Homo sapiens: one gene and its partner. The protein of the gene in region 1 purifies or fractionates together with the protein of each later gene. This does not show direct contact. Each region holds a gene or a part of one and is shown on either strand. Other genes may lie near its edges. The genes, in order: NRDE2 and VPS50.

The links.
Region 2: the proteins of NRDE2 (region 1) and VPS50 purify together in Homo sapiens (co-immunoprecipitation; one large-scale study listed by IntAct). This does not show direct contact.

Annotation. Positions count from the first base shown.
Region 1 is NC_000014.9:90,304,415-90,308,238, reverse strand, and holds part of NRDE2 (nuclear exosome regulator NRDE2), read left to right. Parts: intron 1-3,824. UniProt on the Homo sapiens protein: Protein of the nuclear speckles that regulates RNA degradation and export from the nucleus through its interaction with MTREX an essential factor directing various RNAs to exosomal degradation.
Region 2 is NC_000007.14:93,235,275-93,239,098, reverse strand, and holds part of VPS50 (syndetin), read right to left. Parts: intron 1-3,824.

The DNA of each region.
Region 1 (3,824 bases):
GTCTGATGGTGAAGTTCAGCTCAGTCAGTTTTTTCTCCATTTTTGGAATAGATTGTTATTTCTTTGGCTATACACCAGATAAAATAGTTGGCTTATGTTTAGGAGCCAACTTTGATAAAAATAATAATTTAAACTTATCTAACCCTTACTATATGGCAGACACTCTTCTAAGGACTTATGTAAACATTTTTGGCCAAGTGCAGTGACCCACACCTGTAGTCCCAGCACTTTGGGAGGTCAAGACAGGAGGATCGCTTCAGGCCAGGGGTTCAAGACAAGGCTGAGCAACATAGTGAGGCTGCATCTCTACAAAAAATAAGCTGAGTGTGGTGGCATGTGCCTGAAGTCCCAGCTATTCAGGAGGCTGAAGTGGGAGGACTGCTGAAGGATTTTGAGGCTGCAGTGAGCTATATTGCATAACTGCAGTGAGCTATATTGCATCATTGCATCCTGGGTAACAGAGGGAAACCCTACAAATTTTTCTGTAGTTGGGTGCAGTGGCTCACACCTGTAATCCCTGTATTTTTAGTAGAGATGGGGTTTCACCGTGTTAGCCAGTATGGTCTCAATCTCCTGACCTTGTGATCCGCCCACCTTGGCCTCCCAAAGTGCTGAGGCGGGCGGATCGCTTGAGGTCAGGAGTTCAAGAGCAGCCTGGCTAAATTTTGTATTTTTAGTAGAGATGGGGTTTCACCATGTTGGCCAGGCTGGTGTCAAATTCCTGGCCTTAATTGATCCACCCACCTCGGCCTCTCAAAGTGCTGGGATTACAGATGTGAGCCACCACGCCTGGCCGTTAGTTGATTATTTGATAAGGATTTTATAGCAAAAGTGCCTTCATTTAGGGAAACATTGTGTTAAATTATAGCCTAGGTCCTGTATAATTATTAAGATCTCATGCTAAGTGATAAATTGGATATAACCTAAATGTCTAATGATTGGGAAATGGTTAAATAAATTATGGCACATCCATACAATGGAACAGTTTGAAGTCAATACAAATTATATTTTCTAAGATTAATGGTATGAGGAGATGCTTTAAAGTAGGAAGGCAGGCCTGAAACTATGTGATATCAACTATTTTGAAAAAGGATGTATGTGCACACACATATATATACATACTGAAACACATATAGTGTCTGAAAGTAGATAGTAATATAGGCCAGTAACATTTTTCCCCTTCCCTTATCATTTTCATCTAATTTGTTATAAAAATGCAGCTGTTAGTTTAAAGTCAGGAAACAGTAAACATTTTTCAAGAGATTTTATGAATATCTAAAATACTGTATATTTTTTGTGAGACTAATGAGGAATCAATACTATTAAAAGAGGATAAAGGAGAACAAAACTAGCTTTTTAACTTAAAGTTTGTTCCTTAGGGAATGGCAGCCTTGTTTAGAACTACATTAGTGCTATTTTTTTTTTTTTTGAGACCAAGTCTCACTCTGTTGCCCAGGCTGGAGAGCAGTGGCTTGAGCCCGGCTCACTGCAACCTCTGCCTCCTGGGTTCAAGTGATTCTCCTGCCTCAGCCTCCCAAGTAGCTGGGATTACAGTCGTGTGCCACCACGCCCAGCTAATTTTGTATAGTTAGTAGAGACGGGGTTTCACCATGTTAGCCAGACCGATCTCAAACTCCCGACCTCTGGTGATCCACCCGCCTCAGCCTCCCAAAGTGCTGGGATTACAGGCATAAGCCACCACACCCGGCCTACATTAGTGCTATTTTATCTCATCACACCTTTGTTAAGGTTGTTTTTGACTCATAAATGGAATGGCAAGAGACTGTCATGAGATAGTCTGAAAGAATTGGGAGGGAGGCTAGATAAAAGGTTTGAGAGAGAATATTTATGTCTGTGTGAGAAAATAGTCCCCTACAGTGGAATTTGCTGTGTTTGGTCAGTGAGGAGGGCAGAGGCACTTAGAGAGGGGACCTGTTGACCGCAGAGAAGCCACAGAGGTGAGGGAGAGAGCCCGGCCCTGAACCAAGGTGAAGTGGAGCGGAGCTTCCTGGGAGCTGACAGAAGATGAAGGCAGTTCTCCCCTGCCTTTTTCTCCCCACGGCATTTCCGGTTTTATTAGGAAAAAATTTTAATATACAGCAAAAGTTGAAAGATTTTTACAGTGAATGCTCGTATAACTGCCCCCTACATCTACCATTAACTTTGTATCCATTAAGTTTGTATTGTACTTGTTTTGTCATATGTGTCCATCCATCAGCCCATCCTATTTTTTTGATGCATTTCAAAGTAAACTGCAGATCAATAAACAACCCCCTAAATACTTCAGCATGTGTATTATTAACTAGAGGTCAATATTTATTTAGTTTTATTCCTTTAATTGAAAATTTACATGCAATGTAATGCACAAAGCTTCATTCTCACCCGAACCTCTGTTAAAATGTGAAATATTACTCTGACCGCCAGAAGTTTCCTCGTGCTCTTTTCTGGTAAGTCTGTACCCCATTCTCCCAGAGGCAATCACCGTTCTTACTTGTTTCCACCCTCAATTCGTTTTTACCTGTTCTAAAATGCATGTAAGTGGAATTATACAGTGTGTACTCTTTTGTATCTGGCTTCTGGCTTCTTTCACTCAGTGTAATGTTTTTGAGATCATCCGTCCATAAGGCACTTACCAGTAGCTCCTTTTTACTGCTGGTAGTATTCCATTGTATGGCTGTACCTCTGTTTACTTATCCATCTTCTATTGATGGACACGTGGACTCTTTCAGTGTTTGGCTGTTAGGAATAAAGCTGCCGAGAGCATTTGTGCTCATGTCTTTGTGTAGACATGTGCTTTCCTTTTTCTTGGGTAAATATGTAGGAATAGAATTGCTGGGTCATAGGTTAGGTCTGTGTTGAATTTTTTAAGAAACAGCCAGATCTTTTCCCAAAGTGATTATACCAGTTTACATTCCCGCTGACAGCGGATGAGAGTCCTGGTTACTCCACAGGTTACTCACCAACATTTGGTGTTGTCAGCCTTTTAAATATTAACACTGTTCTAGTTGGTGTGTGGGGTACCTCATTGTGGTTTTAATTTGCATGTCCTTGTTGACTAAGGATGTTGAGTTGTTTTTTTTTTTATGTGCTTATTGGCTATTCATGTCTTCTTTTGTGGAATTTCAGTTCAGATCTTTTGCCCGTTTTTAAAATTGAATTGTTTGCTAACATACATACAGAAAAATGTACAATTTTCCTTAGCTTTTGCCTGTGCAAATATTCAGTAGTCATGTGTTTGTTAACTCTGGGGACGCCTACATGTTCCATAAAAGCGTTTTAGAACCCAACCTCTTTTCCTCTAGAGTAGAAAATAACCAAATGTAATTTCATTTGACATACTTTGTTTCAGGATTAAAAAAAGAATCTTAGGCCTATATGTTATCTTCTTAAGTAGGGACACAGGAAAATATTGAGAAAACAGGACTGGTCTAGGAAACAGATGATCCAGGTTCCCAGGCCTCAGTGTCCTTATTTAGGAACAGTTAAGAGAAGGGATGATAATTTTTGCCTTGCCTGTCACATATGGCTGTGATGATCAAATGACATAATGTGTGTGACAGTTCTTTACAAGGCTCCAGGAAAATAGAAATTACTAAGATCTAGAAGACAGGCATGATCTTAAATTCATGAGATGTTAAAGAAGAGTTGAAGTGTTATAGGAAGAAGTCAAGCCAGGCAGAAAGAAAGTTAATTACTAGTCCTTGTGTATCTCCAAATAGAAACAATCTGAAGGTGAGGTGAATTTGGTTATATGCAGTGAACCTGCATAACGAGAGTTTAGGTCTAATGCGCCTTTAGTCATTCAGAGGTAGTACACGTATTCC
Region 2 (3,824 bases), on another chromosome or scaffold:
CTTTAGGTGCCCTATATTGGGGATCCTTAGTAACCAAAATATATGGTATGCTTATGTTGACTATTTGAGACTCAGAGCAGAACTTGCTTATCTTTAAACTACAGAGATGTGTATTTTCTCTTCCCTGTTGTAAAATACCACTAGTCATATCTAAAATTTTTTATTACAAAGTGCTCTGCCTCAACCGCAAGTTTTCCATTACCCCCAGAATATCTAACCTACCCACCCTTCTCTCCCCGTCTCCCTCTCTCAGGCACACTTACCACTCCAAGAAATGAGAAAGCAATACATCACTTTCAGAATTATCTCCTCTACAAAGTCTTCCTAAATCCCTATGCTCCAAAGAACACAGTATTTCTCAGTATAACCCTTGGATCATGTCCATCAACACCACCCAGGGAACTTGTTAAAAGTAAGATTCCTAGGCCCTAAAATAAACCTAATGAATAGGTTTTTCTAGATTTGGGCCAGGAATGTGCATTTTCCCAAAACAATACCTCAGTAAGACATCTTCCAAGACAATACCTCAGCCAAAGTAGTAAAGTTTTAAATTTTAAATATATCTTTCTCTTCCAAACTTTAAGTCCTAAGGAAAGGGAGAGACAAAGTCCTATTTGCCTCTGCAGCCCAGTGGCTAGCAAAGTTCCAGAAACAGAGTAAACAACAAAGAAATGAGTAAATTATTAGGTAGAAGTCATTGGTCAGGCTCCAATCTCCCACAAATTAGCGCATTGTTCCCATGGGAACATGTAATTGACTGCAAAAAAATTTCTAGGAATGCTCGCTGGAAAAAAAAAAAAGGCCTAAGGAGGTTTAATATGCCTTTCAATGAGTGAGGGAGAAAAATAGTATGTTACTAGTCTTGGGCGGTTTGTTCTTCCCTGTCTCGAATTCTCACCAACAGTCATGAGGGAATAGCATCAAAACTGGTAAAGAAGGCAAGGCTGAGTTACCAAACTACACTTCTATATACATTATATATGCACACATGAAAGTAAAACTTCCCAATTTGATTCAAAATCATGACCACCCCTAAAATATATTTTTAAAATGTAATTGCCATGTCTTTTAAACAAACATTTTTCAAAGTACACATGCTCCTCGACTTACAATTGGGTTATGTTCCAATAAACCCATCATATGAGAACATATGGAAACATACAGAAGAAAACAGACACTGAGACTGCCTGAGGGTAGAGGGTAGGAGGAGAGAGAGGATCAGGAAAATAACTATTGGGTACCAGGCTTAATACTTGGGTGACAAAATAATCTGTACAACAAACCCCTGTGACACGAGTTTACCTATAGAACAAACTTGCATAGGTACCCTTGAACTAAAAATAAAAAAAATTTTTAAACCCATTATAAGTGGAAAATACATTTAATAATCTCAATAAAACCATCATAAACTCAAAAATTCATTAAGTGAAACCATAGTAAATCGGGGACCATCTGTATAGATTTGCTTAACTAATCTAACAGAAATCCCTGAAGAAATATATCATATTTAATTTCTCTTTCCCCAGAGCTAGTCCGTAAAGAAACCAATGCCTGAAATGTAAACGTGATATATACCAATATCTAGAAAAAGTAGTCACCACACAACAATTCAATACCAATACACGGCAAATTTCTGCCAAATGTACAAAATAAAAGTAATACAAATTGAAAACCCGTGTACATGTTAGGAGGATGTAGAGTGAAGTGATTATAGCAATGGGCTCTGGAGCAGACCACTTGAGTTTGTATCCTGACTTTCTTGCTGTGGTTTTGAACAACTTATCTATCCTTTCTGTGCATTATATTCTATGATCATTCATAGGCTATTATAAGAAGTAAAACAGGCCGGGCGTGGTGGCTCACGCCTGTAATCCCAGCACTTTGGGAGGCCGAGGCGGGCGGATCACGAGGTCAGGAGATGGAGACTATCCTGGCTAACACAGTGAAACCCCGTCTCTACTAAAAATACAAAAAAAAAAAATTAGCCGGGCGTGGTGGCGGGCGTCTGTAGTCCCAGCTACTTGAGAGGCTGAGGCAGGCGAATGGCATGAACCCGGGAGGCGGAGCTTGCAGTGAGCCGAGATCGCTCCACTGCACTCCAGCCTGGGCGACAGAGTGAGACTGTCTCGAAAAAAAAAAAAAAAAAAAAAAAAAAAAAAAAGAAGTAAAAGAGGTCATGTATGTGAGAAGCCAAAAATACTGTCTCATATATCTCAAGCATTCTGTGATGATTAACCATAATTCTTAATATTTTTATTATGACAGAAATGCTTTCCTTTTATCAAAACAGAAATGAAGAATTACATAAATGTCTCAAAGCACATCTGACATTCAACTGTACTTTAGAATTACAGATTTTTAACACTTTATCAGTTTTATAAACTTCTACTAACAAATGAAGTCATTCTTATTTTATCTTCATCTCTCTAAAGCATGAAGTCATGGTTTTAACTACAGTTCTCTGCCTTTATTAACACTTTGATGCTATCATTAACCACTATTTGATTTTCTTTTGTATTTGATGTTTGTGTTGATAATTCCCCAGTTTAGACATATAGAAAATTCAGCATAAATTAACACTCGCCTCTTCATTTACCCAAATCAGATTAACACTTCAGACTACTTCAGTTATGTCTACATTAATCCTCATTTTCCATTTACGAAACCAGCAACTATGTCTTATCCATCCAAAGAAGCATCTGTGATGATTTGTGTTTCCTTCTCCTTTCGGCAAAACTCAAGAGTGTTTACACCCAGTCCCTAATTTCTCTCCCCCTATTTTCTCCTGAACCCACTCTAATCAGGCTTTCCTCCCCACAACTTCATGAAAACTGCTGTAGTTGGGGCACCAAGGACCTCCACGCTGCTCAATCCAAAAGCACATTTCTCATTCTCACTCTCACCTTACTTGACCAATCTGCAGCATTTAACACAGCTAATCACTCCTTACTCTTTTAAATTCTTTACTTGGCTTCAAGGCAGTCTTCTTGGTTGTTCTCTTCATCCCACATTCATGCAACAAATATTTATTGAGCATCTGCTATATTCCAGGTGCCATTCAGGAAGCTAAAGACTTCTTACCTCACAAGCTGCATGTTCTCATTCTGCTTTCCTAGATCCACCACTTCCCCCTGAGTTTTTAACACTGGATTCTCAAAAGCTCCAACCTTAGATTCTTTGTATATCTACACTCATTCCACTGGTGATCTTAACCAGTTTATATGCAATCTACATGTTTGTAACTCCCAGAGTTTCAGCTATACCCTGGATTCGCCCCATAAATTCAGATTCATCTGGCCAACTGCCTGCTGTATCTCTCCAGTTGAATATTTAAGAGGCTTTCAAATTAACAAGTCCAAAAACCATGTCCCTTCCCTCAATCTGTTCCTCCCTCAGTTTTATCCATCCGAGGAAATGGCAATTACATTCTTCCAATTGCTAGGGCCAAACTATTTTGAGTCATCCTTGATGCTTCTCTTTCCCTCACAGCCCAAACCCAATCTGTCAGGAAATTCTGTCACCTCTACATTTACAGCATATTCACAGTCTGACCTCTTTCAACACTTCCACCACTAGGGTGGAAGGCTTACACCCACCCTCTCACCTGGATTACCACAGTAGCCTCATCATTCACCTCCCCTGGTTTTGCTCTTTTCCGCTCTTCAATCTGTTCTTAAAACATGGGTCCAAATGGTCTGTCTGAAGTGTTATGTCCAATTATATCATTCCTCTATTTGCCATTTCACTCAGAATGAAAGCCATGACCTTGCTATTACCTATAAGGTACTACATGATCTAGCTTCCTGCCTTCAGTCATCTAACCT